2 linked regions of the Homo sapiens genome follow. The protein of the gene in region 1 purifies or fractionates together with the protein of each later gene. This does not show direct contact. Each region holds a gene or a part of one and is shown in the gene's direction. Other genes may lie near its edges.

Region 1 (3,602 bases):
GTGATCCTGGCCTCGAGGCGGAAGCCTTGTGACAATGGGTGTGTGCCTATCTGCTGTGGGGTGGGGGACACAACTGGACAGGGTGGTAGGGTGGCCGCTTCTCCCTCCCAGGGAAGGGCATCAGCCTGGAGCCAGAGCTCTGCTTCCCATTGGCTGTGGGGCCCCAGGCACCACTAGACTTTTCTGGGCTGCTGTGGCTTTACTATGGGTAAAATGAGGGATAGGGGCACACATTTCCCCTCTTGTCGCATTCCCTAGAGCAGGGCCACCCTTACCCAGGGTGGCTCAGGCTGCCTCGATGCAGGCCTTGGGCAGGATATTTCTCACGTGGCCACCTCCTTGGCCTCCTCCCTCTGACAGCCCTGTGTGGGCTGGAGGGCCTAAACATCTCTTTTGCTGGAGAGACAGGGACAGAAAAAAAATCCCAAAGCCCACGAGTCTTCCCCTGAGCGTTGAAGTGGAGTGGCTTTTCCAGAAAGTCCACAGTGAAGTCAGGTTGGCTCCTGGTGAATTCAGTGCTAACCCACAGGTACCTCCTCCCTCCAGCCTGGCCCTGAGCCCCGCATTGGGGCTTTAAGAGTCGATGTGCCTTGCATCCCCCTGGTGAGGAATCTGTGCTAGAGGGGGCAGGGTCTCGGCCTTGGTTGGGCAGAACAGGCCCCCACTTTCTTCTGTGGCTGACCCCTGTCCCCTTGCTACCCTTCCTTCACTCAGGGACCCCTATGTCATCGCGCTGAGGTCGGTCACGCTGCCCACACACCGAGAGACGCCAGAGTACAGACGCGGAGAGACCCTCTGCTCAGGCTTCTGCCTCTGGCGCGAGGGGGACCAGCTGACCAAGGTGAGGCCGGTCCCCCCAACCACGCCCCCAGCCTGGCTCCACCCCAACACCACACGTGTATTGAGCTCAGCACTGCTGGGCTAGGATAGTCTCAGAGCTGGCCCCCCAGCAGGCTCCCCCTTCCAGCCTGGGGGAGCCTGAGAGTGTCAGGGGCTGAAAATGATCTAATCTGTGTACAGGTAAGTCAGAGGCCACTGCATGGTCTTGGAAAAAGCTCTGGGTGCTGAAGGCAGAAGGCCTGGGTTCTGAACTGAAATTCCATCTCACTCGTCATTCACTTGGATAGCCCTTCTCATCTAGGAAGGCTTTATATGACTCTGAGGGCCCATAAAACCCAGCAGCGCAGTCCGTGTTGATGGAAAACATGGGGAGGAGGCTGAGGGAAAGCGAGGGTGGGGTACTGCAGCCTCCCCCCTCACAGCTTCTATTAGGGCCCTGCAGCCTGGGTCTGGCCTTGAGACTCACCCAGCAGAGACTCAGCCGGTGTTTGCTGAATTCATATGCTTGAACCCATGAGCGCCTCAGAACCATCCCTGGGCTAATGTCTAATGTGTCTCTATGGCCGAGATTCAGAGCTGGGCCCTGGAGATGCAGCCCCTGCCCTCCAGGGCCTCTGGCTGGCGGGGAAGATGCATGATGACAATGTGGTGTGTGGTGTGGGAAGCCAGGGTTGTCAGTGCCCGAGGAAGGGTTGGGGGAGATCAGCTGGAGGAGGTCATGCTGGGCAACTGTGTAATCTAAGACCCTGGGGAGTTGGGTTGAATATTCTGCCCTCCCAGAAGGCCAGCAAGGCTGACTCACCACCAGCCTCGTGCCCACTGGGCTCCCACCCCTTCCCAGGACCCTCCCCTAGCTTGGTCCCCCTGAGCTTGGCTTCCCACCCTGCAGGTATCCTACTACAACCAGGCCACCCCAGGTGTTCTCAACTATGTGACCACCAACGTGGCCGGCCTCTCCTCTGAGTTCTACACCACCTTCAAGGCTTGTGAGCAGTTTCTCTTGGACAACCGGAATGATCTGGCCCCCAGCCTCCAGACCCTCTAGATGCCCTCAGTGGCCACATCATGCCCACTCCCACTCCATCCTGTCCCCAAGGACTCACATACAGTGCCTGGAGAAAGCCAAAGACCTTTATTTCTTCCTGCCTCCCCGTGGGAAGCCTCCGCCCTGAGGTCCGCTGGCCCACCACCCCTGGGTGCTCAGTTTCTACCAACATGAGCCAGCAAGTCCTTGTGGTAGCCCTGGGGTAGCCTGTAGTAGACTCGGGTCCTGTCCACAGCCCTAGCTGCCAGCAATGCTGTCCTCACAGAGGCATAGTCGCCCCCAGCTGGGTTGTGCTCCACTGTGACGGTGGCCCGGGGGGAGGATGCCAGCAGCCTGCCTATGGCTCCAGCTGTGCTGTGGCCCAGCAGCATGGCCTGCATCTGGAAGGACACAGGTTGCCAGAGCCCCTGGCACAACTCTAGCATATCTGTGAGCAGCTGTTCCCTGTAGCCACTGCCCAGCACCTCCTCAGGCCAGCCTGGTGCCACAGTCACGTGGGGGAAGACCTCAGCCACAGCTGTAAGCAGCTCTCTGCCAGCCACATGGCCGGGGACCGAAAAACTCCCGTGGGAGATTTTGGCCCCAACCCACACAGGCCAATGCAAGAGGCCAAGGCTGGAGAGGCGTGCCAGCAAGGCCAGGGATGGCCGGAGGGCTGCGGGCTCCGCTATTTGCAAATGGATGCCCCAGTGTCCGGGATGTGTGGCCAGCTGCTGCAGGCAGGACTCCAGCGTCAGGATGTTGCCACTTGGAGTATGAACAATGGGCACGGGGTTTTCAGCCACAGTTCCCTCGAGGCCAGTGTTCAGCAGGATCATGCCTTCTGTGTCTGGAAGAGGCGGCAGAGGCAACAGTGTTTAGGATTTGGGTTATCATAAGGTGTTAAGAGTCCCTTGTTAAAGGGGCAGTGGGAGTTATGGGGTCATCAAGGACCTTGCCTCTCTGGAATCTGTCAACCCAGTTTTGGGCTCCAGGTGGATGGGTTGCTTTATAAATGTGCCTGGTGCATGAGAAACTCTTGTTTCAGCTCTTGGCCTTTACCCATGACTCAGCCTGGGGGCTGGTGCCGGCCTTGCCTGCAGCAATGTAGCTGAGGACTGGTCTGAAGGCCAGGAGCCCTGTGCTCTTGACATCACTGTACTCCCTCTCCCTCCCCGCAACCCTGCCCCACCTTGCATCCAGGGTATGGTGTAAATAAACCTGTGTTGCCATGGCAACAGAGACCGGCGGTACCTGCCCCAAGCAAAGGACACCCCTGCAGATGAGCTGGGAGCACCGGGGCTGAAGGGTAGACCTTACCTGGGAGGGTCATTGTTGCTGTTTTACCGCTGCCCTGGACGTCAGGAACCAGCCACTCCACATTCAGACCGTCATCCCCAGGCAGCTGGAGAAGAGGGATCAGGCTGCCTCCCGTGTAGTACATTGGTTTCCGTGTGGCATTCACTGTGGGGCCCCAAATCGCCAAGGTGAAGTGGCTGCCATTCACAGAACACCTTACCTGGTTGCTAGGGTCCCATAGGCCACAGCTCTACGGGCATCCTCTCTAAGCCTCATAGCACCCTGCCAAGTAGCTCTCATTTCCTTGCCTTGTAGACTAGAAGAAGTGACTTGCCCAAGGTCTTATAAGCAGTAAGCAAAGTTGCCAGGAGTGGAACCTGATGGGACCAGGTCTGCCTGGCTCCAGAGCTGGTATCCTTCCCGCTCGCTTAGGTGGCTC
Region 2 (8,332 bases), on another chromosome or scaffold:
GCTGGGATTAGAGATGCACGCCACCACACCCAGCTAGTTTTTGTATTTTTAGTAGAGACGGGCTTTCACCATGTTGGCCAGGCTGGTCTCAAACTCTGAAATATTTTAAACTGTAAAATTCAGTGTTTCTTAGTATATTCATAACAATGTGTGACCATCTTTACTACCTAATTCCAGAACATTCTCATCACTTCCATAAGAAACTCTACCCCCTTTAGCTATCACCTGCCAACCCCCTACTTCCCCCAGCCCTAAGCAACCATTAACCTGCTTTCTGTCTCTATATATTTACCTATTTTGAATATTTCATATGAATAAAATCATGTATGCCTGTATAACACATGGTCTTTTGTGTCTGGCATCTCAGCATAGTGTTTCAAAAGTCCATCCATATTGTAGAATATATCTGTACTTTGGAAAAACTCTCAAACCATGCTTCTCCTCTGCTCTCACACCAACACAAAAACAGTCAAGACTTCTGGGACCCCAAAATATGTGGGGATTTCTCCTCATCAGCCAGCAGGCAAGCAATCAGTTCTGCAGCGGACACCAGCTGTGTGTTCTCCAACTCAATTTCAACACTATCTACCTAGACATAATGTCAGATCCTACAGGTTAAGGGTTCAGTCTCCAAGACTATCCCCACCTCAGATATCAGTTGCAAGTTTGGGTCTCCAGAACTTCTGACCAACAGGCTTTAAGTTGGGGTTTCCATGACCCCCTCTTTGGGTTCAATTGATTTGCTGGAGCGGCTCACAGAACCCAGTGTAACACATATTTTCTGGTTTATTACAAAAGATATTACAAAGGATACAGATGAAGAGATGCATAGGGCAAGGGATAGGGGAAAGGACACCCATCAGAGGGCCCTTGGCCCTCTGAAGGTTTACTGAAAAATCTACTCACAAGAAGGCAGATTAATAAAAGAAGAGGTATACAAATTTATTAAACCATGTACACAGGGAGAATCACAGAGTGATTGCCCAATATCCCAATGGGGTTCAGAAGCTTAACACCATCTTGAGGTTACAGAAAGAACACGGACTTGGATCCTGGCAAAACAGATTATGGTGGGGGGATATAAATTCTATTTAGGGGCAATAAATGGTTACTAGGGAGAATGATTGGATGGGGAACAGAAATTAATTCATTAATAGTTCTCTTTGGAACTTAAATGATCCTCAGGGACAGTCATGATCTTATAAAAGGGTCCGTTCAGGTACATTCTTGGTCTTCTTTCCTGTAATGGATAATGAGACAAGGAGGGGAGCAACTGTTCTCCTTGGAGGGTCCATACTATCTTTATGTAGATAGGGAAAAAGTCTCTTCCAACTTGATACCTAAGAGTTTTTAACTCAAAATCCTCATTATACCAGGGAGCCATATTTTGGGATAAAATTCCCTGCACTCCCTCTGACCTTTCATGAAGACTTCATTGGTTGCTCATGATTGAAGCATGGACAACCATGCTCATGATTGAGGCATGGACAACCATATCAAAAAGTGATTGGACAAAAAAATACATGCTCTAAACCCAGCAAGGTCTGTCTATTCAGATGCCTCTTGGCCTCTCTGTGCAGCATTCCTTCCTCCAGGATATGGGGTAGGGCCCTCTCTGGAATAGATGCCTTACGACCACAATCAGATTAGAGTCTTGCCAAGTAGGCAGGTGAAAGGAGGGCAAGAGAAGGTCAGAGAAAGAGATTCTGTTTACTGCAAAATGGGCTAGGAAAGTTATGAGCTAGGAACTGTGGATGAAAACCAATGTATCATATCACAGTATTCCATTCCTTTTTATGACCAAATAATATTCTACTCTATAGATATAACACACTTGTTTGTCTATTCATTAGCTGATGAACATTTGGGTTGTTTCTACTTTTTGACTAAATCAATAAGGCCGCTAGGCACATTTGTGTACAAGTTGTTGTTTTTGTTGTTTAGAGATGGGAACGCTCTCTGTTGCCCAGGCTGGAGTACAGTGGTGCAATCATAGTTCACTACAGACTCGAACTCCTGGGCCCAAGCAATCCTCCCATGTCAGCCTCTTCAGTGTCTGGTACCACAGATGAGTGCCACCACACCCAGCTACTTTCTAAATTTTTTGTAGAGACAGGTCTCCCTATGTTGTCCAGGCTGGTCTCAAACTCTTGGGCTCAAGCAATCTTCCCGCCTCTGCCTCCCAAATTGCTAGAATTACAGGCATGAGCCAGCATGCCCAGTTTGTGTACAAGTTTTTGTTTGAACACTTGTTTTCAGTCTTCTTGGGTATAAAGCTATTACAGATGTTCCTTGACTTACAATGGGATTATATCCCAATAAACCCACCATACGCAGAAAATAGTGTAAGTTAAAAATGCATTATAACCCATCAGCCCATTGTAAAGTCAAAAAATTGTAAGTCAAACCATCCTAAGTCAGAAAGCATCTGTAGTGGAATTGGTGAGTAATGTGTTCTATGTTTAATTTTTTGACGAAAGGCTAAATTGTTTTCCAATGGACGTGTATTAGTCCATTTTCACACTGCTGATAGAGACATACCCAAGACTGGGCAATTTGCAAAAGAAAGAGGTTTAATGGATTTACAGTTCCATGTGGCTACGGAGGCCTCACAATCATGGTGGAAGGTGAAAGGCACTTCTTACATGGCGGCAGCAAGAAAGAGAATGGGAGAAGCGGAAGTGGAAACCTCTTATCAAACCATCAGATCTTGTGAGACTTATTCACTACCACAAGAACAGTATGCAGGGAATCACCCCCATGATTCAATCATCTCCCACTGGGTCCCTCCCACAATATATGGGAATTATGGGAGTATACTTCAAGATGAAATTTAGGTGGAGTCACAGAGCTAAAACATACCAGGGCATATATCATTTTGTATTTTCATCAGCAATGTATAAGTGCTCCATTGCCCCACATACTCATTAGAACTTGGAACTGTTGATTTTTTGTTTTTTACTTTTAGTCATTTTGATGAGTATCCCATTGTGATTAATTTGCAATTCCCTAATGACTAATGATGTTCAGCATCTTTTCATGTGCTTATTGGCCATTTGTCCATCTTTTGGAGAAATATCTATTCAAGCCCTTTACATATTTTTCATTTTATTTTTGAGACAAGGTCTCACTCTGTCACCTGGGCTGAAGTGCAGTGATGTGATCATAACTCATTACAGCCTCAACCTCCCCAGCTCAAGCTATTCTCCTGTCTCAGCCTCCCGAGTAGCTGGGACTACAGGTGAGTGTCACCATGCCTAGCTAATTTTTGTCATTTTTTTGTAGCGACAGAGTTTTGCCATGTTGCCAGAGCTAGTCTCAAACTCTGAGCTCAAGCGAGCCACTCACCTCAGCCTCCCAAAGCGCTGGGACTACAGGCATGAACCACCACTCCCAGCCCCTTTGCACATTTATAAATTGTGTTCTTTTTGGTTTTGTTTTGTTTTAAATTCGGTTTATCTTTTTGTTGTTGGGTTCCTTTCACAATAAGTTAACTTTTGTCAACTGAAAAATAAAAATAAAATTCTATGCCCCCCAACTGACTGAACAGGCCCTCTCTTGGCCAAGGAGACCCTAGAAAAAACTTGGAAGCTGAGTTCCTACTCATGACAGGATGGGAAGTCGGACACACCTCTTTATAACCCCTCCCTCTATAATCGCCATTAGATTTTCTTTCCTAAGGGTTAAACAGAAACCAGCCCTTTTGAAAGACTCACTCCACCAGCCTGATGCTGACCCTCCCATTTGCAGTTTCAATAGAACAACCGACTAGCATTCCTTCCTGATAAGAGATCACCCACCATCCAGGGAGTGGTTCTGGCCAGTCGACAGAGGACGTGCAGTGAGGGTTTTCACATCCCCTGCTTCACCTTTTGAAGTCAAGCGGTAGAAAACTCTACCCTTGGATCATGCTAAGGCCACCATTTTTTAAACATGGGATCCACAGAGAGGCATGAAGCTCAACTGCACATGCACAAATTGCTCCTTTCATAAATATTCGTGACCCCTCTTACAGTTTATTTAACATGTATATTTGGCCACTGTGTTTAGCATAAATCCCTGTCTTATTCTTCCAACCCTGGAAGTGCCTGTTTTTGGCTTCTGACTGGAAGCTAGGCTTCCCAGTCTGTCAAAATGGCTACCATGCAGGTTCAACTCTTTTTTTTTTTTTTTTTTTTTTTTTTTGAGATGATGTCTTGCTCCCAGACTGGAGTGCAGTGGCACAATCTTGGCTCTCTGCAACCTCTGCCTCCTGGGTAAGCAACTCTTCTGCTTCATCTTCCCAAGTAGCTAGGACTACAGGTGCAGGCCACCACATCCAGCTAACTTTTGTATTTTTAGTAGAGATGGAGTTTCACCATGTTGGCCAGCCTGGCCTCAAACTCCTGACCTCAAGTGATCCACCCGCCTCAGCCTCCCAAAGTGCTGGGATTACAGGCATGAGCCACTGTGCCCGGCCAGGTTCAACCCTTTATGAGAAATAAAGTTCATCTGATTGGGCACAGTGGCTCATGCCTGTAATCCCAGCACTTTAGGAGGGCTAGACAGAAGAATCACTTGAACCCAGATGTTCGAGACCAGCTTAGGCAACATAGTGAGCCCCACTATTTCTATTTTTTTTAAACTAAAGAAAAATATGAAGTAAACAGTGCTAAAATAGTGATGGCAATACAGAAATCAGGAACTAGTGGCATGACATTTTGAGAAAGATATTTAAATAAGCTGGAGAGACTCGGTGTCTCCAGCTTTAAAACAGAAATCAGTCTCTGCCACTTCATAGGTGCTAGAACAAAAGAGACTTGTTCCAAATGAGATGACGCATGTGAAGCGCTTACCCAGTGCTCGGCAAGGGGAAGCACTCTCTAAACGTTAGCAAATACCATGGTAGGACACAAGGCCCCTGACTCTCCGCTTTCAGCTTACTGAAGATCCTCAAAACCAACAGCACACAGCTTCCAGCGCATGCTCCTTTCCCCAAGACCTTGTGGGGGAACCCGCCGCCAGCGCGGAGCCACCGTGACTCGTAGCCTGACTTCCGTTTCCGGGGGCGGCTTCCGGCGGCGTGACCTGACCGCAAGAGGCCAATGGAGTGTGGGAGCTGAAAGGGTCTTCGCTGGCGGCCGGTAACTGGCGGCGGTTGGGAACGGCCGAGTGTGGCTCTTCTGGTGTTTCAGCTTGGGGAGAGAGGGGTGGCCTTCCTCTTGCAGTTGAGGCCGGCGCCGAGCCGGACTTCAGGCGGATCTCGTGGCGGAGCCCATCTTGCTCCCTCTCCCAGGCCTTTACCCGCTCCCTAGGATTCCCGGGCCCTGTAGGTGGGAGTTGGGAGACGTGAGTTCTCTTTCATTCTGCGCCTCTCATTGGCTCTCTGACCTTGTGCGGAACGCGTCCTTTAGCTGACCTCAGCTGCATTTTTTAGAAGATGGAGATTGTATTCACAGTGACTGTCAGCTTTTTAACGGCGGGAACTGACGTAGTGTTAAACACTGTCGTGTATCGCTGGCACAGCACAAGGACATTATAGGTATTCTGTACTCAATTAAGTTATTTTGAGTCACAGACCTTTTGAAAATCTCGTGTAAGCTATGGCCCCTCCACCTCTCTAATACTTCCCCCGGCCCCCACCCCAAGCACACACAAAAGCTTATGCATAGGAAATTTGTTTTACTATTTCGGATTACTTCCAAGATCTCTCTCCTGATGCCCATCTATGGATCCCAGAGTCTGGCAAGTAGTAGGCGTTTGAACATTTGTAATCATTAGATAGTAAGTATTCAGTTAACCATTTTTATTTTTAATTTTTTCTTTTTTTTTTTTTTTTTTTTTGAGACAGGGCCTCACTGTGTCACCCAGGCTGGAGTGCAGTCCTCCCACCTCAGCCTCCCAAGTAGCTGGACTCCAGGCGCCCACCACCACGCCCAGCTATTTTTTGTGTTTTTGGTAGAGATGAGATTTTGCCATCTTACGCAGATTGGTCTCGAACTCTTGGCCTCAAGCAATCTACTCACCTCAGCTCCCTAAAGTGCTGGGATTACAGGCATGAGCCAGTGTGCCCAGCCCAGTTAATCATTTTTAAATGCATGAAATGCTATTTCACAGGAGGGAAGAAGATAGATAGCCTATTAATAAGTTTTAATTATTGGCCTAACCAGGTACTACTCTCACTTGTCTCCTAACGACTCTAGGAAAGAGGTATTACTAATTACTTAATTACATTTGAAGGTTTGGGAGAATTAATTTGCCATAAGTCATTCAACCTATGATGGTGGAGGCAAGAATTCAAACCTGTATCTATCTGAAACTCCAAAAGCCCCATATTATTATTATTATTATTATTTATTTTATTTATTTATTTATTTTTTTGAGACAGAGTCTTGTTCTGTTACCCCAGCCGGAGTGCAGTGGCATGATCTCAGCTCACTGCAATCTCCACCTCCCGGATTCAAGCAATTCTCCTCCCTCAGCCTCCCAAGTAGCTGGGATTACAGGCTCCCACCACCACACCTGGCTAATGTTTGTATTTTTAGTAGAGACGGGGTTTCACCATGTGGGCCAGGCTGGTCTTGAACTCCTGACCTCAGGCAATCTGCCCGCCTCGGCCTCCCAAAGTGCTGGGATTACAGGTGTGAGCCACCACGCCCAGCCAAGCCCTATATTCTTAACTAACCATGTTCTTAACATCTAGATGCAGAAATGGATTTGAATGTGATCTGCAGTTTCTGTCGTAGTTATGAAATGGCTTTTGTCAACATGGGTTACCCCAAAGCAAACATTGCATGCTATGGAAATACTTCTTGTCTCTTTTTCTCCCATGGTATCTGTATTGCTTCTTTAATAATAACATCATGTTTTACAGCCTGCACTCTGTGCCCATGTTTATTCAACCCTTTTTACTTTGGTGACTGTTTATCAGATGTGTTGCCTTGTTCTTCCTGCCCTCCAGAGCCCATGTTTTTAATTATAACTGAAATATGAGATGATAATATTTGGGCTTTATTTCTTTTTCTTTTAAAGGACAGTACTGCTTTTAAAGAGACAGTGTTAGGGATCTTGGAAGCACAGCCAACATGTGTGACATTGAAGAAGCCACTAACCAACTCCTAGATGTGAACCTTCATGAGAACCAGAAGTCTGTACAAGTGACAGAAAGTGACCTCGGAAGTGAATCTGAGCTTCTAGTCACTATTGGAGCCACTGTACCTACTGGCTTTGAGCAAACAGCTGCAGATGAAGTCAGAGAGAAACTTGGGTCATCATGCAAAATCAGCAGAGACCGTGGCAAGATATATTTTGTCATTTCAGTGGAAAGTCTGGCACAGGTTTGAATGGAGCAATATTTAAAATAGTTTTCTAAGTTGATCATTTTATGGTTACTTTTCATTTTATAGACCCTTCTGGAATCCTTTCTGATTTTCATTGCTCTGCCCCAAATCAGGTGATTTTAAAGTTACTGCATTTTCTATTGAGTACTGATTTGTAATTTTGACTGTAGTTTCAGTATCCCTTAGGACCAAAAGTGTTTCAGATTTTTGGAGGGGGGTGGGGGGAGTTTTGGAATATTTGCATTATACTTGCCAGTTGAGCATTTCTTTTTTTTTTCTTTTTCTTTGAGACAGAGTCTTGCTCTGTCATCAGGCTGGAGTGCAATGGCGCGATCTTGGCTCACTGCAACCTCCGCCTCCCAGGTTCAAGCAATTCTCCTGCCTCAGCCTCCCCAGTAGCTGGGACTACAGGCGCCCGCCACCGCATCTGGCTAATTTTTGTATATTTAGTAGAAACGGGGTTTCACCATCCTGGCCAGGCTGGTCTCGAACTCCTAACCCCGTGATCCACCCGCCTCGACCTCCCAAAGTGCTGGGATTACAGGCCTGAGCCACTGCGCTCGGCCTGCCAGTTGAGCATTTCTAATCTGAAAATCCGAAATGCTGCACTGAGCATTTCCTTTCAGCATTGTGTTGGGGCTCAAAAAGTTTCAGATTTTTAGATGTGGGCTGCTCAACCTGTAGTAGGATTGCTACATTTTTAGAGGTGATCTAGTATTTCTTGAGGATTGAATTCACCAGAAAGAATACTGTTCAACTTAAGAAATTCTCTAAGTATCTCAGTATTTATTTACTTCAGCATATAGCAGATGTTTAACCTTTGGTGATGAAACATAAAAGAGATTTTCCTTTTAATTTGCATCAAAAATTCTTGCTCAGAAGTAATTAGGACTCACTCAAGGTAAAAAGTGAAGGTCAGAAAACTGCAATCTCACTATCATAAAGCTGATATATCTCATTACCACATAAGCAGTGAGAGGGCAAGGATTGTTGTCTATTTTTTTTTCCACCAA

What was found.
Region 2: the proteins of ACOT11 (region 1) and THUMPD3 purify together in Homo sapiens (affinity purification with mass spectrometry; 3 studies listed by BioGRID and IntAct, with this or other methods). This does not show direct contact.

Annotation. Positions count from the first base shown.
Region 1 is NC_000001.11:54,607,228-54,610,829, forward strand, and holds the end of ACOT11 (acyl-coenzyme A thioesterase 11), read left to right. Parts: coding exon 1-38; intron 39-714; coding exon 715-841; intron 842-1,729; coding exon 1,730-1,885; 3' UTR 1,886-2,040; coding exon of another isoform or gene 2,041-2,714; 3' UTR 2,715-3,102; downstream 3,103-3,602. Other genes in the region: protein FAM151A, read right to left, coding at 2,041-2,714, 3,185-3,328. UniProt on the Homo sapiens protein: Has an acyl-CoA thioesterase activity with a preference for the long chain fatty acyl-CoA thioesters hexadecanoyl-CoA/palmitoyl-CoA and tetradecanoyl-CoA/myristoyl-CoA which are the main substrates in the mitochondrial beta-oxidation pathway.
Region 2 is NC_000003.12:9,358,005-9,366,336, forward strand, and holds the start of THUMPD3 (tRNA (guanine(6)-N(2))-methyltransferase THUMP3), read left to right. Parts: upstream 1-5,049; 5' UTR 5,050-5,123; exon of another isoform or gene 5,124-6,189; intron 6,190-7,011; 5' UTR 7,012-7,064; coding exon 7,065-7,316; intron 7,317-8,332. UniProt on the Homo sapiens protein: Catalytic subunit of the THUMPD3-TRM112 methyltransferase complex, that specifically mediates the S-adenosyl-L-methionine-dependent N(2)-methylation of guanosine nucleotide at position 6 (m2G6) in tRNAs.